Linked DNA regions of Homo sapiens: region 2 is linked to region 1. Evidence: fine-mapped expression QTL. A gene starts in region 1. The other region holds a variant in brackets. All regions are shown on one strand. Distances are between the middles of the regions.

The links.
Region 2: its variant is fine-mapped to the expression of PRODH in lung (TOPMed, PIP above 0.99).

What each region holds. Positions count from the first base shown.
Region 1 is chr22:18,929,986-18,940,506 of GRCh38, reverse strand. PRODH (proline dehydrogenase 1) reads left to right here and starts at 4,214. Exons shown (of 14, transcript NM_016335.6): 1 at 4,214-4,492; 2 at 9,309-9,517. The coding sequence starts at 4,220. It overlaps LOC122455341 (a long non-coding RNA gene), which reads right to left and starts at 4,084. Exons shown (of 4, transcript NR_173080.2): 1 at 3,859-4,084; 2 at 3,040-3,155; 3 at 758-834. RefSeq lists enhancers at 1,148-1,655, 1,517-1,811, 770-1,834, a silencer at 1,517-1,811, a promoter at 770-3,984 and a cis regulatory region at 3,998-4,232.
Region 2 is chr22:18,972,367-18,984,084 of GRCh38, reverse strand. All of the region lies in intron 1 of DGCR5 (DiGeorge syndrome critical region gene 5), which reads right to left. Among named protein-coding and RNA genes, the nearest start is that of DGCR5, 7.8 kb to the right of the region's middle. The variant C/T (reference allele first, on the strand shown) is at 4,981.

The sequences.
Region 1 (10,521 bases):
GCCCTGCCCTGTGGTGCTGGGGGCATTCCTGGATATCCATACTGACTTTCTGGGGGTGGCCGATACTGAAGTTCAGCCGGAGGCCAGTATTGATAGGCTACTGGCGGTTGGGTCTTATTTTCTTTAACCTGCTTTTGAGGTTGTAATGTTACGGGCACCTGACCTGCTGGAAGAGGACTTGTCCCTCGTGGTTTAGACTCTGATGGCCCCACTAATTCTGGACCTTTTCCTTCTAATTTTAACGTTTCAGGATATATCACCTCCTGTAATTGATTATAGTCAACATTTTGCGTTGACTGAGCCATTACCGGCTCTGCTACATATTCGCAATGTAAACTTTCCGTTTCTTTCTGGGATTTTTTCCTTGTCTTTTCATTACAATCTATTAAACAGCTTCCAGGGGCATCAGAAACTGAAACGCTATCTTCTTCTGTTTGAAATGGTTCTAAAGCTGCTTTAATAATGGCCCAATCATTCCATACTGTAAGTGGAATGATATTACCCTTCCTACCTGCTTGTTTTAGTTCCTTACCAATTCTTTTCCAATCTTTTAGATCTAAAGTTCCTTGTTCTGGAAACCATGGGCAAAATTGTTCTATTATTTGAAATAGCTTGATTAGATTTTTTGTAGATACTTTAACTCCCCCTCTTTTTAAAAGAATTTTAATAAAGCTGAGATAAGAGGCATATTTACTTTTAATTTTACTTTTAGTTTGCCCCATTATCACCCTAGCTTCTTCCGAGCGCACAAGCTTACCGTAAGGCTGACTGTAGACGTACTCGGGATCTCTCGTCGACTTGTCCTCAATGACCACGCTCGAGCGTACCTTCACCCTAGAGAAAAGCCTCCATGTTGGGCACCAGATGTAGGGGTGGGTTGCCCCTACACACCTGTGGGTGTTTCTCGTAAGGTGGGACGAGAGATTTGGAAAAGAAAAAGACACAGAGACAAAGTATAGAGAAAGAAATAAGGGGAACCGGGGAACCAGCGTTCAGCATATGGAGGATCCCGCCAGCCTCTGAGTTCCCTTAGTATTTATTCATCATTTGTGGGTGTTTCTCGAAGAGGGGGATGTGTCAGGGTCACAAGACAATTGTGGGGAGAGGGTCAGCAGACAAACACGTGAACAAAGGTCTTTGCATCATAGACAATGTAAAGGATTAAGTGCTGTGCTTTTAGATATGCATACACATAAACATCTCAATGCTTTACAAAGCAGTATTGCTGCCCGCAGGTCCCACCTCCAGCCCTAAGGCGGTTTTTCCCTATCTCAGTAGATGGAGCATACAATCGGGTTTTATACCGAGACATTCCATTGCCCAGGGACAGGCAGGAGACAGATGCCTTCCTCTTGTCTCAACTGCAAGAGGCATTCCTTCCTCTTTTACTAATTCTCCTCAGCACAGACCCTTTACGGGTGTCGGGCTGGGGGACGGTCAGGTCTTTCCCTTCCCACGAGGCCATATTTCAGACTATCACATGGGGAGAAACCTTGGACAATACCTGGCTTTCCTAGGCAGAGGTCCCTGCGGCCTTCCGCAGTTTTTGTGTCCCTGGGTACTTGAGATTAGGGAGTGGTGATGACTCTTAAGGAGCAGGCTGCCTTCAAGCATCTGCTTAACAAAGCACATCCTGCACCGCCCTTAATCCATTTAACTCTGAGTTGACACAGCACACGTTTCAGAGAGCACGGGGTTGGGGGTAAGGTTATAGATTAACAGAATCTCAAGGCAGAAGAATTTTTCTTAGCACATAACAAAATGGAGTCTCCTATGTCTACTTCTTTCTACACAGACACAGTAACAATCTGATCTCTCTTGCTTTTCCCCACACTGGGTAACACAGCCAGACCCTGTCTCCACAAAAAAATATTTTTTAAAAATTAGCTAGGTGCAGTCCAGCCTGTAGTCCCAGCTACTTGGGAGGTTGAGGCAGGGGGATCACTTGAGCCCAGGTGTCAGGCCTCTGAGCCCAAGCTAAGCCATCATATCCCTTGTGACCTGCACGGATACATCCAGATGGGCTGAAGCAACTGAAGATCCACAGAAGAAGTGAAAATAGCCTTAACTGATGACATTCCACCATTGTGATTTGTTTCTGCCCCACCCTAACTGATCAATGTACTTCATAATCTCCCCCACCCTTAAGAAGGTTCTTGGTAATTCTCCCCACCCTTGAGAAGGTACTTTGTGAGATCCACCCCTGCCCCCAGAACATTGCTCTTAACTCCACTGCCTATCCCAAAACCTGTAAGAACTAATGATAATCCCACCACCCTTTGCTGACTCCTTTTTTGGACTCAGCCTGCCTGCACCCAGGTGAAATAAACAGCCTTGTTGCTCATACAAAGCTGGTTGGTGGTCCCTTCACAGGGACACATGAGACACCAGGAGTTCAAGGCCACAGTGAGCTGTGATCACATGGCTGCACTCCAGCTTGGGCAACAGAGAGAGACCCTGTCTCTTAAAAAAAAAAAAAAAAAAAGCCATCAGCTGGCTCAGGGTAGCCACCTGCCAAGGGTCCCCAGCTGAGCCTAAGACCTGCTTCCTAGGATTTACAGAGCTCCTGTGAAACTCGGTTGTTTCATTGATTGTCACATGGAGCCAGTGACTTTCAGGCCAGCCTTGTTCCCACAGGTGCCCTCACAGGTGGGCTCTCCCGTGGGCCTGGGCACCCAGCGCTAGGCCTGCTCTGCTATGGTCTGGACGTGAGTGGTGATCTCTGTGATCCCTGCACCCCTCGCTTCTCCCCCTGCCCTCTCTGCAGCCCTGCCCCTGGCAGCCCCTGCCCACCTTTGCCTCTGTGCAGGGCCACAGGCTTCCTTGAAGCAAATGCTAGAACTTTGCTTTTTTAAAAAAATATAACAGCTTTATTGAGATATTGAATGGTTTTTTAGTCTATACACAAGGTTGAGCAAACATCACCACTCTCTAGCCCCAGAGTATTTCCGGACCCCAAAGAAACTCCGTGGGCCTTGGCAGCCCCTCCCACTCCTCCCGTCCTCCACCTCCAGGCACCACTGCCAGTGCCATACTCACCAGGCTCCACTATGGGCTTGTCTTCGTGTGACTTCTGTCTCTATCGATTTGTCTATTCTGAACTCTTCATATAAAACGAACCATACAACTTGTGGCCGTTTGTGTCCGGAATCTTTCTTTAAAAAAAAAAATTCACCGGGCGTGGTGGCTCACGCCTGTAATCCCAGCACTCTGGGAGGCGGAGGCGGGCGGATCACAAGGTCAGGAGATCAAGACCATCCTGGCTAACACGGTGAAACCCCGTCTCTACTAAAAACATAAAAAATTAGCCAGGCTTGGCAGGCGCCTGTAGTCCCAGCTACTCTGGAGGCTGAGGTGGGAGAATGGCGTGAACCCGGGAGGCAGAGGTTGCAGTGAGCTGAGATCATGCCACTGCACTCCAGCCTGGGAGACAGAGCAAGACTCCATCTCAAAAAAAAAAAATTCACTTTTATTTTTGAGACAGGGTCTCCCTCCATTGCCCAGGCTGGAGTTCAGTGGCACAATCAGCTCACTGCAGCTTCAACCTCCTGGGCTCAAGCAATCCCCTCACCTCAGCCTCCTGAGTAGCTGGGATTACAGACATGCAACACTATGCCTGGTTAATTTTCTATTTTTTGTAGAGACGAGGTCTTACTATGTTGCCCAGACTGCTCTGGCACTCCTGGGCTCAAAAGATCCTCCTGCCTCGGCCTCCCAAAGTGCTGAGATTACAGGCGTGAGCCACCACACCCGGCTATTTTTATTTTTTAGTTGACACATAATAATTGTACATATTTGTGGGGTACGTAGTGATGTTTCTGTACGTGTATAGTGATCAGATAAGGGTAATTAGCATACCTATCATCTCAAACATTTATTATTTCTTTGCATTACGAACACTCAATATTCTCCTTCAAGCTATCTGAAAATACATAATTTTTGTTTTGAGACAGGGTCTCACTCTGTTGCTGTCTTCACGGAGAGCAGGAGCAGAGGCTTTGAGAAGCCAGTGGGCCTTGGCCTCAGCCCTGCCGGCAGAGGGTCCCCACCATGCAGCTGAAGTGCCAGGGTGCTTGTGAAGTCTAAGCCCTTGTCTGGCATTTGTCAGGAATATAGGGTGAGGCCTCTGGGACCGAGCGGGGCGGGGCGGGGCGGGGCGGGGCGGGGCGGGACCAACAGCGCACACTTAAGCGGCCCGGGCGGGTACCGCCGTCCCGCCATGGCTCTGAGGCGCGCCCTGCCCGCGCTGCGCCCCTGCATTCCCCGCTTCGTCCCGCTGTCCACGGCGCCGGCCTCCCGCGAGCAGCCCGCAGCGGGCCCAGCGGCCGTGCCAGGAGGTGGGTCGGCCACGGCAGTGCGGCCGCCGGTGCCCGCCGTGGACTTCGGCAACGCGCAGGAGGCGTACCGCAGCCGGCGAACCTGGGAGCTGGCGCGGAGCCTGCTGGTGCTGCGCTTGTGCGCCTGGCCCGCGCTGCTGGCGCGCCACGAGCAGGTGCGCGGGGTGCAGGCGGGGGCGCGGGGGCTTCTGCCGGTCCCGGGAGCCTTTACGGAGCTTCCTGGCCTGAAACGGGTGCCTCCCAAGCATCTCCTGGAGCAAGGGAAGCCAGGAAGGGAGGCGTTTCCTGCAGTCCCTCTCGGACCTCGCAAATTTTCCTATTTGTCGATGTCTACCAACTAAAAACAATGGTCGTTTTCATATTTACGATATATACCACTTGTGGGAATACAGAGTTATCACTTGGAATTTAAAATGGAGTATTCTTCATGTTGAGACAAGAGAATCCTGGTGTAGGGCTCATAGCCTGGAACCCCGGAATTCAAACCCCGGGACCCAGCAGCTTCCCAGACACGGCCACTCTGAGAACACTGTTGGGGAAAAATGGGAAGCCCCTCAAACGCCCAGCTTTGAACTCACCCATGGTAGCTTTAAAAAGTGTCAGGGCTTTTGGTGGCGGTGGTGGGGGGCAACAAGCAGAACACTGTTTTAGCCGCATCAGCCTAGGGGTACTAGAGATGACGGTTATCTCCAGGTGACCCTGGGAAGAGTTTGCAAGGTTCCGCTTTTTGGCGCCAGGGTATCTGGTGGTGTTGATTTCTCAGGTGAGACTGTACAGAGGTCGGGGGCTGCACCCCTGGCCTCAACAGGAGGCGGGGGAAGGCGGGGGACGGTGTCAGATGAGAAGCACCGAGCCACAGTTGAGCTTAGGTGAGGCCTCGGCGGGTGCGAGGTGAGGGCAGGGATCCACGAACTCAGAGTCAGATGCTGTTGGCCCGAATCCCATGGGGAGCGCCAAGGTCAGCCTAGGACCCGTGGTGGCGGGAGTGCGGAGGATGGTGGAGGAAGAAGGAGCTGAACTGGACAGATGGAGGGCTCTGGGAGGGCATTGCTGTGTGTGCACACAAGGATGTCTTAAGGTCAAGTTTTGGTCATAGAGAGCCCCGGCCAAGGAGACAGGAGGGCGAGAAGGGACATCCCAGGTAGAGGAACTGGCAAGGTGAGGGACGGCGATGTGGAGGCTTTGGGGAGTGCCCACATCTAAGGGGCATCCCAAAAGAGGAGCCAGTGCTGGTGGTGCTGCAATAGGAGGAGGAGGCAGCAGGGCAGAAATGCCAGGGGAGGGAGTGGCCAGCCACAGGTCCCTGCCCAGGGCAAGGACGGGCATGCTAGGTGGCAGCTGGGGCCAGTCGTGCAGAAGCCATGCCCACCTTGTGGCCGGGATGGAGTGGGGACTAGGAAGGCACCAGGTCAGGTTTCTGTAGGCACAGCCCTAAGCATGGCTGGGATGGGGAGGGGGCTAGGAAGGCACCAGGTCAGGTTTCTGTAGGCACAGCCCTAAGGTTTCTTGTCTAGATTCAAGACAAGTTGTTGCACAGAGAAGCCAGCAGAGCTGGGTGTGGGGTTTGGTGCCCAGTCTGCTGCGGGGAATGCCAGGTGCTGTTCCGTGACTGTGGGAGGAAACTGTTGGCTCCGCTGTCCCTTGGGTGCCTTCTTGAGGCAAGTGCCAGGGCTCAGGGATGGTGCTGTGAGTACCTGGAAGAGGCAGGGCATCCAGAGGTGACCTCTCCCAGGCTCCCCTAGGGTCCCACCTGTGCCCTGGGAAGTCCCTCAGTGGGGTCTGTACTGTTGTCTTGCTAGTGGTCCCATGGGTGTCGGCAGCCTCAGCACTGGAAGAAGGCAGAGGCCAGGTCCTGGGCTTGTGAGCTGCTCACTAGAACCTGGTCCTGTGAGCGGGCCAGAGGGGAGTTCCTTCCCTCACCCTCTGGGCTGTGGGGAGATTCCTTCTGCTGAGCCAGCACAGGTCTGTGAGGCACCCGGGCAGTGAGGCCACATCTGCCACAGGCGTGTCAGGTTGTAGTAGCTGATCTTTGAGCTGCTGCCTTGGATGGGGACAGCAGTGGGGCCCGCCCTTGCCTGAAAGCCAGACTTATTGAGGAGGGTTTAGGAAAGTCCCAGGATTTCCATGACAACAGCACTGAGGTTGGGTGTGCGCCCTCACAGAAGGGACAGGACCCGTGGTGACAGTGGTTCCCTGAGTGGGGGGAGGGGAGAGAACCGGCTCTACCAGTGTTACTCTGCACACATTTGGTTGAGTCTTTCACAGGGGGTACAAGTGTATGTGTTACTGGTGCAGGTTTCTAAATCCTCGAAGGATCTCCTCACCTGAAGAAGATGTGGGGCTGCCCTGGTCTCAGGTAGTGCCATGCGGGGACATCAGTGACACCAGGATGGTGTTAAAGTGGTTGCTTTGCTGTGGAGTCAGCTTTAAAATTACAAGCCCTAGGCTCATGCCTAGGCATGGTGGCTCATGCCTGTAATTCTAGCACTTAAGGAGGTCAAGGCAGGAGGATCATTTAAGGCTAGGAGTTCAAGACCAGCCTGAGCAACATCGTGAAACCCTGTCTCTACAAAATATTTTTAAAAGTTAGCTGGGGCCAGGTGCGGTGGCTCATGCCTGTCATCCCAGCACTTTGGGTGGCCGAGGCGGGTGGATCACCTGAAGTCAGGAGTTTGAGACCAGCCTGGCCAACATGGAGAAACCCCATCTCTACTAAAAATATAAAAATTAGCTGGGCATGGTGGTGTGCGCCTGTAATCTCTGCTACTTGGGAGGCTGAGGCGGGAGAATCGCTTGAACCTGGGAGGTGGAGGTTGCAGTGAGCCGAGATTGTGCTACTGCACTCCAGCCTGGGCAACAAGAGCAAAACTCTGCCTCAAAAAAAAGAAAAAATAAAAGTTAGCTGAGTGTGGTGGTGCATGCCTGTAGTCCCAACTACTCTGGAGGCCGAGATAGGAGTGTCGCTTGAGCCCAGGAGTGAGACCCTGCCTCTAAAAATAAATAAATAAAAAACTTGCCAGCCCTGCCTGTGTGCTTCTGCAGCCCTGTGCAGGGAGCTTCCACCCTCAGCCCGGGCCCAGTCCCCCAGCCCCCCATCTTTGTGAATAAGCATCCCTGGAGTCAGTGCAGCCTGGGCTCCCGCCCCTTCATTTAGTGCTGGCCGTGCGGAGGCGAGCAGTTAGGTAGAGGGAGACTGCGTGGCCCCGTGCGGCAGTCGACAGTTGCCCACCCTCCCTCCTGTTGTTTTCTGATGGTTCTCTCAGAGCGGATGTGGATAAGCCCAGTGATGGTGTTCAGGTCCCCAGTTCTGCCCCGCCTGCCACTTGGGTGATCTTTGATATGTTTCAGACCCATCCTGTTCTCCCAACTATCCCTGGGTGCTGCCAGCAGGAATGAGGCCTGGCTCAGGCTCAGTGGGAGACGGAGAACATGTCAGCCTGTTCATTTTCCAGTTTCTAATCCTCTTGATAAAAGAACAAAATGCCTTAAAGTCAGATTCTGCTTGGAGGCTGCAGGAAGGCAGGGGTGAGTGCCTGGGAAACCCTGGTCCTTGGGGCTGCCCCATGGCGTGCCCAGGGGTGATGGTCAGGAGGCGTCTCCATGGGGCACCAATGTTCAGGGTAAGGCTGTGGGGCTATGTCTGCCTGTGGGCAGGCGTGTGGGTGCTCAGGGCTGGCTTGGGTGTAAGTGTTTGACTCGCTAATGGTTTTGCTTAGACTAGAAGTTGTTCCTGAAACTACGGTCTCAAGAGATGCTCCCCACATAAAAGGAGTTCTAGTATCCATTGGGTTTGAGAAACCCCAGGCTCTTCCTGTGTTGGGGCTGAGTCGGCAGGGGCAGCAGACACAACGCGGAGGTGTGCTTCTGAGCATCACACTCGGCCCTCCTCTCCAAGTAGCCTCTCGTTGTCCCTGTCCTTTCTGCCCTGGCTGTCCCCCGTGCTGGAGCTCCCACAGTTGTCCATGCCATCTCCTCGCCTTGGCAAGCCCCACTCCTGGATCTGGGTTAGTAAACACCCCTGCCCTACCCTGCAGGCACTGCCCCATCCCCCTGTCCTGAGTCATAGGCAGAGTCCCTCCTTCCCCTTTGGGGTTCCTTTACCACCAGGATGTGAGATCCTGGTCGGTTTCCTTTGGTTGTTTCCAGTCTATAAAAGGTGCTTGGTGCATGGCAGCTTGGGACATCTGAATGAGCGACGTGGTGAAATATGATTGGAGGAGACAGACAGTTCCCGGGCAGCATCTGTCAGAGTGGCTGGTCAGCCCCAGATGACCCTGCAGAGCGCATGGGTCCTGGGGTGGGAGTCATCTCACAGGCCCCTGTGGACTGTCATCTAGCTCATTGTCCTTGTTGCCAGGGCATGCCTCCCTCCAGCTGGGCGCAGACTCAGCCTGAGTTTCACACGTTTGTTATTTAGCATCCATTCGGGGGCTGGCCTCATGCCAGTCACACTGTTTAAGGGACTTGGGATAAGAGGGAACAAAACATTGAAAAATCTGGGCACTCAAGTACTAGAAAGTCAAGTTAGATCCTCCTCTTCCGCAGCAGAACTACCAAGGTGTGGATACAGAGGATGGTCTCAAAATGCCGGCTGTCATCCCCAGGGAGGCTGGCCATTCTCCTTTTTATCCACCAAGCAGTGGTCAGGCACCCACTGTGTGCTGCTGGAGTGACTCATGGGTGGGGCCCTGAAGGGGCAGAGTCCAGGTGGGAACAGTGTCCTCAGGCCAAGCAGGCAGCACCTCCTGTGGTCTCTCTGCCCTGGATGGGAACTGGAGTGATGGACAGGGTGGAGAAGCAAGCGGCTTTAGCTGGTCTTCACCATGAAACTGACCCTGAAAGCCCAGTCGCCAAGAGACCATATCGAGGCCCCATGGCTGGGGTGAAGTGTGGTCGGGGATGAGCAGCGGTGCCTTGCTGGGAAAGGAGAGTTCAGGCAGCCCAGGACAGCGGCTTCCCTTTGCCTTTCAGCTGCTGTATGTTTCCAGGAAACTTCTAGGACAGAGGCTATTCAACAAGCTCATGAAGATGACCTTCTATGGGCATTTTGTAGCCGGGGAGGACCAGGAGTCCATCCAGCCCCTGCTTCGGCACTACAGGGCCTTCGGTGTCAGCGCCATCCTGGACTATGGAGTGGAGGAGGACCTGAGCCCCGAGGAGGCAGAGCACAAGGAGATGGAGTAAGGCCTGCCCGGTGTCTGCGGGCTTTCTGATCATGACCCTGGAGCACCCAGTGGGAGCAGGTGGGATGTATCCAGCTGCTGGGCTTCAGCCTCAGCTGGGCAGAGGCCAAGGCTAGGAGAGCTTGGTCAGCCCAACTACCGATGACCCTCCTGGGCTCTGCCTGGAGTTCTTGCATTTTTGTTTCATGCGGTGGACAGCTCTGGGCTTTCATGGGAGGCCTGGTGTGCGTGAGGCCTGAGGAAGCAGAGTACAGAATGGCCCTTGGCCCTATCTAGTCCACCGCCTGGAGGAGCACAGGCACCAGCATATGAACCAAGCACTCTGCAAAGAATGGTTGGTCTCGCCTGGATCTCACATGAGCCAGGGACTGCTCCAGGAAGTGGAGGGAAACGTGGTCTTGTTGTTCTGTCCTGATGCCCTGCCCAGGAGGGCGGGTCAGGGTGGTACCAACTGCCCTCTACACTCACTGCCCAGGGAAGGGGCCTTGTATCAGCTTAGTGGCCTCCAGGAGCTGACTCCAGGCCGGCCTGCTACACTGCTCCTGGCTTCAATTCCCTTCTCCACTGACAATGGGGCAGGGGCCAGGCCTGGGAGGTTCCACAACTGCAGGGCAGGCTGAGGCCAGGCAAGGGTCGGGCAGTGGGACCTGCCTGCGGGTCAGGAATCCCTGCAAAAGAGAGGCTGTAGCAGAGCCTCCTCCATCAGGTCAGCAAGTTTGTGTAAACAGCCAGGTAGCACAGACTCTCAGTCGGGCCACACCCTCCCTGCCACAACGGCTTCACTCTGCCTCAGTAGGGCCATAGTAATTAGAATTTCATATAATTTTCTTGTGTCACAAAATATTATTCTTGTTTTGATTTCTTTCAACCAGTTTTTTTAAAGTAGGGTCTTGCTCTGTTGCCCAGGCTAGAGTGCAGTGGTGCCATTGTTCACTGCAGCCAACCTTCTGGGCTCAAGTGATCCTCCCATCTGAGCCCCCTAAGTAGCTGGGACCACAGGC
Region 2 (11,718 bases), 43 kb before region 1:
ACACCTGGGTGCACAGCTCGTCCCAATGGCCAGAATGTATGGAAATCCAAGCGTGGTGGCTCATGCCTGTAATCCCAGCACTTTGGGAGGCTGAGGTGGGTGGATCAGGAGTTTGAGACCAGCCTGGCCAACATGGTGAAACCCCGTCTCTACTAAAAAATACAATAATTAGCCAGTGGGGGCGGGGGGGTGGCACGGGCCTGTAATCCCAGCTACTCAGGAGGCTGAGGCAAGACAATCAGTCGAACCCGGGAGGCAGAGGTTGCAGTGAGCCTAGATTGAGACGGTAACACTGCACTCCAGCCTGGGCGACAGAGCAAGATTCTGTCTCAAAAAATAAAAAAAATTAAATAAATAAAGAATGTATGGAAAACGTTAGCACAAATGGAGAAAGTTAGCTTAACCCTTGAGAGCAGGCAGGCAGGGAAAGGCAGGCCTGGGTGCCCTCCTGGCCCAAGTGGGCTCAAGAGGCCCTGCATACTCTGGTGGGGGGTGCTCTGAGGGGCAGCAGGGGTCCTGGTGGAGAGTGCTGGCAGGAGGACTCCCAGAGCCATGCAGCCTGGATGTGGGATCGGATCCTCTTGCATTGCCTGCTCTACTGGCTCAGAACCCAAATCCCTCAAAGTGAGGAGTCCCACTCACTGGGAAGCAGTTTTTGGTTCAGACTTCCCATGGACCCTGGGAAACTTCCTCAGTTGTCCTGAAAGCTCTGCAGGGTGAGACCACTCCTTCCCTCCCACCCCTGAGAAGGGCCTGCACACAGTAGGTGCTCAGTCCACGCACGAGAGCAGGTGACGCTGGGGCCCCTGGGGCTTAGCAGCCGGAAGCCCAGGAGTTCTCTGCCTGGTGCATGCGTGGCTCACCCTGGGAGCAGGGCTGGGGTGTGCCGGCTGCTCTCCCAGCTGTGGACGCTCACGCCCACCCTAGGTACAGGCTGGCAGGGGCTGCCAGGCTGGGGAGGCTGTGCCTGGGTTTTCCCTGGGGTAATTTCAAGTAAAGGGTGTTCTTTTCCTGTGCGCCAGTAGACGCTTTGGTCTCATTCATGAGGTTTGATTTTTTTTAAACATGCAATCCTACACTTTGGGAGGCCGAGGAAGGTGGATCACTTGAGGCCAGGAGTTCTTGATCAGCCTGGCCAACATGGTGAAACCCCGTCTCTAGTAAAAATACAAAAACACAGCAGGGTGTGGTGGCACACACCTGTAATCCCAGCTACTCCGGGGCTGAGGCAGGAGAATTGCTTGGACCCAGGAGGCAGAGGCTCTAGTGAGCCAAGATCGCGCCACTGCACTCCTTCCCGGATGACAGAGTGAGACCCTGTCTCAAAACAAACAAATACGCAATTCTTTTTTTTTTTTTTTTTGAGTTGGAGTCTCACTGTCACCCAGGCTGGAGTGCAGTGGCGCGATCTCGGTTCACTGCAAGCTCCGCCTCCTGGGTTCATGCCATTCTCCTGCCTCAGCCTCCCTAAGAGCTAGGACTACAGGCGCCCACCACCACGCCCAGCTATTTTTTTTTCTTTTCTCTTTTGTATTTTTAGTAGAGACGGGATTTCACCGTGTTAGCCAGGATGGTCTCGATCTCCTGACCTCATGATGCACCTGCCTCAACCTCCCAAAGTGCTGGGATTACAGGCGTGAGCCACCCCACCCAGACAGTTTGCTTGTTTTTTGAGACAAAGTCTTGCTCTGTCACCCAAGCTGGAGTGCAATGGCACGATCTTGGCTCACTGTAACCTCCCCCTCCCAAGTTCAAGCAATTCTCCTGCCTCAGCCTCCCGAGTAGCTGGGATTACAGGTATCCGGCCACCTCAACCAGCTAATTTTTGTATTTTTAGTAGAGACAGGGTTTCACCATGCTAGCCAGGCTGGCCTCAAACTCCTGACCTCAGTGATCCACCCCCTTCAGCCTCACAAAGTGCTGGGATTACAGTTGTGAGCCACCACACCCAGTCCCAGTCTTTTTCCTATATGTGATTTACATTGGTTTTCACAAAAAATTTATAGCTATTTTTTTTTTAATTTTTAAATTTTTTGTAGAGATGGGATCTCACTATGTTGCCCAGGCTGGTCTTCAGCTCCTGGTCTCATGCAGTCCTCCCACCTCAGCCTCCCAAAGTGCTGGGATTATAGGCCTGAGCCACTGTGCCACTGTGCCTGACCCTGCATTTTCACTTATTGTTACTTTTTCAGCACTCCTCCTTTAATTCCTAGTACCTGCTAAGACTTCTGTTGAAGCTCACCTGCTTAATTCCTCTTTGTGATTACACAATTTTATATTTTGGAAAGCGTCATTGCCAGGGCTAGGCATAGTGGTTCACACCTGTAATCCCAGTATTTTGGGGAGCCAAGGCAGGAAGATCGCCTGAGCTCAGGAGTTCAAGACCAGCTGGGCAACATAGGGAGACTCCATATCTTAAAAAAAAAAAAAAAAAAAAAGGAATGGTGGCACATGCATGTTGTCCCAGCTAGTTGTGAGGCTGAGGTGGGAGGATTGCTTGAGGCCTGGAGGTCAAGGCTGCAGTGAGCCATGATTGTGCTACTGCACTACAGCCTGGATGACACAGCAAGACCCCGTCTCAAAAAAGAAAAGAAAAAAAAAAGAAATAGGAAAAGAGTCATTGCCTGGGGTTCATTTTTTACTTTTTAAAGAGTGCAGAGTAGTTTTTAATGTATTTAAAACATTTCTGAAAATGGAACAAACTGGATAATGTTATTTTTTATTTGTTATTTTAATTAGGGGCATTTCTTCTTTCCTCCGTTAAGCATCAAAACTTGGAGACCAGATGGCAGATTTGCACCTTTACAACCAGAAGCTCAGGGAGAAGTTGAAGGAGGAGAACACAGTGGGTATGTTCAGATTGCTTTTGGGTACCTTGACCCAGCCACATTGTCTACCCTAGATTGGTGCTCATGGTACTTCTTGGTGGCATTTCAATAATAGGTTGAGTTGTATACCATCTCCCTTTACACTACATTATGAAAATGACATTATTAAATAAGAATTTTGATGGAGCTGATAAGCTAGTAGAATTGGCACATGACCCCTTTTATACCCAGCCCTCTTGTCTGGTGTGCTTGAGGTAATAATAACCCCTTTTATACCCAACCCTGCTGTCCAGTGTGCTTCAGGTAGGAGTGTCCTGGCAGATCCATATATTGACTAATTGCTACTGTATGTAGTACATCCTTAGACCACCCATATTCTAGCATGTGCAGCCCAGGCTTGTACTGATGCTCTGCTGAGGTCTGGCATTTAAGAGAAAGACAAACAGCTCCTTCAGGCCAAGGATCTCTGTCAACAGGCTGAAGAGGTGAGGGTGCTGAGCCTCAGTATGTGACCAAGTTTGGCTTCCACATGGTGATGTGCTGTGGCTTCATCCCACAGGTGAGTGCCTGGGTGAGGGTGTTCCCTGATGCTCTAATGCTGGTCACCCACTCATTTTTTTTTTTTTTTTGAGATGGAGCCTTGCTCTGTTGCCCAGGCTGGAGTGCAGTGGCGCGATCTTAGCTCTCCTGGGTTCATGCCATTCTCCTGCCTCAGCCTCCTGAGTAGCTGGGACTACAGGCACCCGCCACCACGCCCAGCTAATTTTTTGTATTTTTAGTAGAGATGGGGTTTCACCGTGTTAGCCAGGACGGTCTCGATCTCCTGACCTCGTGATCCTCCCACCTCAGCCTCCCAAAGTGCTGGGATTACAGGTGTGAGCCACCGCACCTGGCGGTCACCCACTCTTTATATGTGACAGAATGCCAGTCCCCTAGGCACCAGCAAGATTGACTACCTGATTTCTGAAAGCAGAATACAAGCTGTGATACCTGGAATGGGGAGAGCAGAAGCCGAGAGTCACTGAGCTGAGCCAGGCAGGCTCATGGGACATGCTGGGGCAGGCAGATCAGCATTCTAAGCAGAGGAAGCCTCAAGTGCAAAGGTGATGTTGCACAAGGCTCCTGATGAGTATGAAGGACTGGAGACAGTTGGGTGACAGGTAGTGTGCCAAGTCAGGGATTAAGTCCTGATTATCAGCTCCTCTCCTGAGGCCTTTACAAATTATTATTTATTTAGATACAATTGAGATATAATTCACATAAGATCCACCACTTTAAAGGGTAGAATTAATTGGTTTTAGTACATTCACAATGGTGTGCAATCATCACTGCTGTTTAATTCCAGAACATTTTTATTACCCTAAAGCAGAACCCATTAGCAGTCACTCCCCATTTCCCTGTTCCCTGGCCCCTGGCAACCTCTAATGTATCTTCCGTCGCTTTGAATTGACCTATTCTGGATATTTCATATGAGTGGAATCACATTACATGTGACCTTTTGTGTCTGGCTTCTTTCACTCAGGATCATGCTTCAAGGTTCTTCCATGTTGTAGCACGTATTAGAATGTTATTTTTTTATGGCTGAGTAATATTCCACTGTATGGCTAGGCCACATTTTTGTTTATGTATTCCTTTATATGGCTGAATAATACTGGGGCCTCTTGAACCATCACCTTTTAAACCTGTGAAGTTCCAAAGAAGGCTTTGGACAACCCAACTGCCCTGTGCTTCCCTCAAAGAAGCCATTATTGGACCATATTTTGGTTTCGTTAGGGACACAGTGCCCATTATATAAGAGCTAGTCCAGTTTAAAGCTACTGCTTCCCGAAGAGAGCATACTTTCAAATCTGTCTCCTCGTGGAAGCCCGTCCTGATTAGTTGGGTCCCTGCAGACAATGACCAAGCTCTCCCTGGCGCAGATGGAGGGTGAGTTCCCCAGCTGGAGGTCACTCAGGGCAAGATTCTCATGAAACCCAAGCAGATTTACGGTTCCCAGCCAACAGGCAGTCCTCACACTGGGCTCGCTAGAACTGCACAAGGAGTTTACCAGATTTACCAAGACCCCCGAGATCTCAACCACAGCTGGCTCCCCTGGAGTCACACAGCTGTCCGGAGCCAGTGAGCAGTACCATCCTCATAGTCCAGGTGAGGA[C/T]GGCTGGGTGTAGGTTGTGGTCCTGTTTTTCAGGTCAAGGGGTGCAAGTGGTGGGGTCTACAGGTCTTGGTCCTGTTGCTGAGGTCAAGGGGTACAAGTGATGGGGTCTACAGGACTTGGCTGGCCCAGCAGAGTGGTGTTTCAAAGAAATGAAGTGAAATCTTACCCAGAACCCCTGTGTGTGAAGCAGATGAGAAGCGGGCTGGTCTGTTTGGAGCACAGGTAGCCCCTCAATGTCCCTTCAGACTCCAGGATCAAGGAACCACCTCGGATCAGCTGCAGCCTGGCTAGGAAGGGTGAGGGGCCAGGGAGGACACCTGCCCTGCTTCCTGCGTGTCGTGCCTCGGACAGCACCAGGTTCCGGAGGCTTCCCACTCCTTGGGAGGGCTGAATGAGTCCTGGGGGAGTGTGTGCTGCAGCCACTCGGGGGCAGTGCTGAAGAGTGGGCTCCTCAGATGCCTGGGGCACTAAGGCCCACTGGAGCCACCAGCTAGGTCGGCTGCAGTGATTGCCCCATGCTCTGTACACTGCCACATACCAGGCACCGTTCTAAGTGCTTCATCGGACTCAACTCACCCACTTGCCCCAGCAGGTAACCAGGCAGATGTCACTGATCGGTTTTACAGATGAGGAAACTGATGTGCAGAGTGACACTCCTGAGACCGTGAAGCTTGTAAATGGGGCAGCTGGGTTTTGACCCTCAGTCTGGCTTTAGAGCACAGGCCCTGACCATGACACGGCCCTGCCCCTCTGTCAAGGGGAGGCCTGACCATTGGGACCAGCTGTGCACCCAGGTGGCACCTTCCCTGGGTAGCTTGGAGGATCACAGCCCCTCTGTTCAGGTGGTGGGACTGGGCTAGCCCATGCTGGTCTCCTGCTCCCAACACTAAACCTGGCTGTCTTCCAGAAAGAGGACAGAGCTCAGACACTGAGAGCTTGGGCAGGCAAATGGGAAATGACGGGAGGCTGCACGGTGCACCTCTGTGCCGGGGGTCTGACAGCCAGGCTGTGGGGAGGGGACCTTTCCATCCTGCTCTTGAGGTGCACACAGCACCAGAGGGTGAGCCCAGGGGCCGAGTCACCACAGCACCCATGTGCAGGGAGAGTCTCGATGGTGAGGGCCGCTGACCAGGACGGTCCTCCTCAAAAGAGTTTTACAAAATAACCCTTTGCATAAAATAAGCATTGTATTTTTCTCTGTTGAGGTGTAATTGACATAAATTGCACCCATTTAAAACGTATAATTTGGTACCTTTTGACATGTTTGTACCTGTGAACCTCTGACCACAGTTGAGGTGGTTACCCCCAAAAGGTTCCCCGTGCCCTTCCCTGCCCCGGGCAACCATTCTTCTATATTGTCACTGTAGATTAGTTTACATCTTGTGGAATTTAATCTAAACAGAAACATACAGTATGTACTCCTTTTTGTCTGACTTCTTTCACTCAGCATAATCATTCTGATATTTATCCATGTCTAAAATCCTTTGATATTCATCCATGATACACATCCACGTTGCATGTGTCAAAAGTCAATTCCACTGTATTGATATCACATAGCCTGTTTATCCATTCACATGTGGACAGACTTCTGGGTCATTTCCAGTTTTTGCTTATACGAATAAAGCTGCTATAAACCTTTGTATACAAATCTTTGTCTGGACAAATGCTTCCACTTATCTTGGGTAAATACCTAGGAGGGGAATGACTGTCATATGGTAGGTTCATATTTAACTCTTTAAGAAACTACCAAACTATTTTCCAAAGTGGTTGCATCATGTTATATTCCCACCAACAGCGTATGAGAGTTCCAGTTCCTCCACATCCTTCCTAACACTTGATATTTTCTGTTTTAAATTACAGCCATCCTAGTGGGTGTGAAATATTATCTCACTGAGGTTCTATTTTGCATTTCCATAATGACTAAAGATGTGGAGCATCTATTCAGGTGCCTGTTTGCTGACAAAATGTCTTCTTTGGTGAACCATCTGTTCAATTATTTTGCCCAATTTGTGAATAGGTTTTTTTCTTATTATTGAGTTTTGAGAGTTATTATTTGTATATTTAGGATATAAGTCTTTTACCAGATATATGATTTGCAAATAGTTTCTCCTGATTTGTTGTTTGTGTATTCTCTTGAAAGTGTCCTTCAGAGGCCAGGCACGGTGGCTCACGCTTGTAATCCCAGCACTCTGGGAGGTTGAGGTGGGTGGATCACTTGGGGTCAAGAGTTCAAGACCAGCCTGGCCAACATGGTGAAACCCCATCTCTACTAAAAATACAAAAAAATTAGCTTGGTGGTGGGCACCTGTAATCCCAGCTACTCAGGAGGCTGAGGCAGGAGAATCGCTTGAACCCAGGAGGCAGGGAGGTTGCAGGGGCCAGCTGTGGCCACAGGCTGGGGACAGAGGCCAGGTCTGAGGCTGGTCCTCAGTGAGGAGTAAAGGGGATGGACCGGGAGACAGGGTGCAGGTTTGACACTGATTTTGCTTTTGGGGATGGGTCGAGGGAAGAGGCTGAGACTCTGGGCTTGGACATTGGGTACGGAGGATGTGACACTAGCAGACAGGCTGGATCTGGAGGCCTAAGGTGTGCAGTGTGGGGAGCTGTGTGTGCAGGAGAGATGCAGAGCACTAGGGAGCCTGAACCCCTGCTCCAGTGCACAGGCCTGGCACACGGCAGGGAGGAGGCAGTCACCATTCCCTGACCCGCCCGGGCCTGGGAGGCAGGGCAGAGCTGGTGACGGGCCAGCGTGGGGCCTTGGAATGACATCTGGCATGTGGCGGTGGAGGGGGGACATGTAACTGGGGACTGTGGACTCCCAGCTGGAATCCACCTCCACCTTCCACATCCACGCACTGCCTTTTGGTCTTTACTGAGCACCTGCTGTGTGCAGGGGCTGCTCTAGCCCCTGGGACCACCAAGGGCCAGCCCTCCGCAACCCCAGCCCTGCATTCAGCCCCCACCCACTTCCTCCAGAGCCCCACACCCCACATACTGAGGACTCTAGGCGTTTTCCCACTCTTGAAGGCACTGAGCTGGGAACACCACCTCTGGCCACCAGCTGTGGACTGCAGAGAGGCCTACGGTGACCAGGAAGGGTGGAGCTGCCCAAGGTCATACAGCAAGCCGGCACTGCACAAGCTGATCCCATGGCTGCCCAGCCTTGGGGAATGGGGGACTTCTGGCATGTCCCCGAGCTGGCCTCATCTGGGCCCTGGTAGAAGGCAAATAAAGGCAACATCTCAACAAGGTTGTGATAGCTGGGACAAATTGAGGACACAGTGCCGGGGATCCAGGCAAGCAAGGGACAATCCAGGAAGGCTCCCAGGAGGAGGTGAGGGGCCTGAAGCCCACCCTGGCCTGAGCCCCTCCTCGGTACTCTAGCCTGCCTAGCCCTACCCGCTTCCTCGACGGGCCCCTCACCCAGCCTCAGCCTTGGCCTGACATTTCCCGTGACATTTGCTACAAAGAAATTGAGTCATAAATCCAAAGGTTAAATTTGCACATCGCCTCAAACTGCTGGGGGAAGCAGTGGTCCCTCCACCCACTGGGCGCCCCGTGGGTGCGGGGTTTGTGTGGCAGGGTCTACCCATCCTGGGGCACTTGCTGGAGGCCCACAGGTCTCCTCTGGTCCTCCGAGGCACTTCAACCACTGTTTCCCAAAACAGGTTCCTGGGCACACCAGGCCCTGAGGTACATCGCATAGGGGTGCCTCTCAGAGAAGGTGCTGCCCACCCCTCTCCAAAACAGAGCCCAAGATGCCCTGCGGGAAAGGAGCACCATCAGCACCATTTATTCCAGCAGGTCCCACATTTGACCACAAAGCCCTTATGTGATACCCCCAACATTCCAAAGAATTTCAACTCCATGGACCGTGACCCGTGACAGCCAGCTAAGAATGCCAGGGTGCCGACTGGAGAGCCAAGAGGCACCCGGGGGCCCAGGGCAGGCTGCTCTGAGTGAGGCTGGGTCAGCACCTGACACTTCACTCCCAGATCAGCCCGGCTCCATGTGCCAGGGCCCTGAATGGGGCTTACCGCCTGCCAGGCCTGTGTAGAACTACATGGGGACCCTGGCCTGTGCCCACTCAGCCTCTCCTAAGGCCACTCTCGAGGTGTGCCAACAGCCCTGCCTTTCTTCTCCACCTCCTGGTCTGGCTGCCGTGGGTTGCCTCCATTGGACAGGACACAGCTGCAGAACAGTGTCAGCATTACCCCATGCCCCGCTGCCCTGCTGCCCCGCAGAAGAGGCCCCGCAGGCCATAGCGGGCAAGACCAGAGGCTGTGTGAAAGAGGGAGAGGAGAGGCGGCCCCAAGGCACCCACTGCACAAATGGATGCCCAGACTCTACTCACTCACCATCACCCACCCGGCCAGCCCACGGTTGTCAAAGGCCTCAGCTGGCTAGGAGGGGCGGGATCTGGCCCTGCTGCCGAGTCCCCTGAAATCAGCTCAAGCATCAGGGGAGAGGCACGTGACCAGCCCCTAGACCTGGTGGGTGCCAGCTGAGGACATGGTGGGGTGGGTGTGCAGAGCTGCATCTCCCGGTGCCCAGCTCCACGGCTGCAGGCAGTGCAGGAGGCCGGTGCAGGTTTGGATAAATAAATGATGGTGCATTCTCAGGAAGGGATTCCACACACACCAGAAAACCCACGATGCACAAGAATAGTTCCCGATGTGCAAAGTGTTTAAAATACAGCGATAAAAGAAGAAACGGCAGCACAGAACAACTGGTGTGGGGAACCCAGCTGGGCCCCAGGGACAGTGCAGGGAGATTTGCAGGGTGGGGTAGCATGCCCGCCACTCCGATCGGGCTTCCCCGGGGCCACTCTGTTACCTCCTATCCTTTAAAGCATTTAATCCTAGAGATGCACGATGCCAAGGATTGCACCCCTTGATTTGCCTGGCTCAGAAGAGAATCTGACAGGCTAGGAACGAACAAGCAAATGAATGAACAAATGAGAAAGTGAACGGACAGTTGGGGCAAATGCAGCATCTGGGATCTGGCTTCGAGGAGGGTGCCTGTGACCTTGGCCTGGGTGCAGCCAGGCTGCAGAGCAGGGACACTGAGGGGTGCAGAGAGGGCCCCGAGAGGGCATCTGCACAGCTGCAGAGGCAGCAGGCAGCCAGGCCGGCTCCTGCAGACCCCAAAGCCCAGGCCCTGGGTGGCTGCAGAGGGTCAGGCAGGCCAGCCTGGGGATCAGAGGTCAGGCTTGCCAGAATGGGGGCGGGACGGCATGAACCTCATTGATCAGACAGTAGCCAAGCGTCGGGAGCCCTCACTAACCCTGTGCCAGGGCCGGGCAGGGCGCCTGGCTCACACATGCATTTGTTCATTTCCAGGTCATCCTGAAACTCCCCGTATGCTTCCTGTTCTTGACCCCTTTCCCAGGTGCACAGACCAAGGCTCCCGGTGAGAGGTTCCGGGCCACAGGCCCAGGACAGCAGGAGGGCTCCTCTGCCTCCCACCCGTCCTGTCCTCACCAGCTGGACCCTCCTGGTGTTGCACCGGCTGCACAGGGCCGTCCGTGCCACAAAGCATGAATTCAAGGCTGGGGCAGGGACGAGGAGAGGGCAGTGCTACAAGGCTGCACTGTCCTTGGGCAGAGGGAGGCGGAGGGCACGGTCCCACATGCCCTGGCCCTCACAGCCTGCCTGTCACTCACAGCAACAGCAAACAAACCCCAGCCCCTCCACAGGCTGTGGGCCAGTCCCCAGCCTCCCAGGACAACAGGACCTTCCCCCACCTTCCAGGGCCCCAGCCCCTGTGGGGGTGTCCTCCATAGACCCTCCACAAGCCCTCTGGCTTTCAGAGACCTGCTGGGCCAGGCCCTCCCTCAACCTCTCCCCTGCTTCTCACTCCATGCAAACCTACGTTTCTGCCAGTCCCAGTGGAAGGACCCTGGCACAGGGAAACTGAGGCTCAGGGGTTCCACAGACCCCCAGGTGAGGAACAGGGGGAGGGCAGGGAGGGAGTGAAGGTACTATGGGAGGGTCTCCCAAGCTGGGCAGCATCCCTGCCCTGTCCCCTCTCCACTCACCTGTGGCCTGAGTTGCCTGACTAGGGGCTTTTATTGTCCCTTCTGCAAATGGATGGGGTGAGGGGCCAGCTGGCCATGCAAAGGTCCCAGGAGGACTCTGCTGAGTTGGGGTGTGGGGAGGTGTTCTGGGCATTCTGAGGCAGAAGCACCAGAGTCGGAACTCCACAGGGAAAGCCGGGCCAATTCCGCCCAGCCTCAGCCTGGAAGTGCCCCGATAATCCCTGACCACTGGCCCATGGTGCAGGTGAGGAAGACTGAGGCAGAGAGGTGACCTGTCACACCCAAGGTCACACTGCCAGCAGGTGGCTGAGCCAGGACCCAAATCCAGGTCACGGTTCTGCCACGGCAGGCCCTGCACGTGCCCCTCTGCCAGGTGGGGTCTAGGTGCTGATGGCCACCCATTCCCACCCCCGGCATGGGAGCTCACTTCCTCCTCACCTCAGTAGAGAAGAACAGGGAACAGTACCCCCTTTATAGATGGGAAGACTGAGGCTTAGAAAAAGAGACTGGCCAGCCCCACTGCTTCAGCTGCCCCTCTGCTAGTATGTTTCACCCTCACACAACCTACAAGGATAACCTGCTGGTCCCCACTCTATAGATGAGCCTCTGGTGGTGGCCAGGGGAGCAGGAGGTGTGGCCTGCCAATTGAAGCCCCAGCCCAGGGCCCTTGCCACAGTGCTAGTGGGCCACCCTTGCCC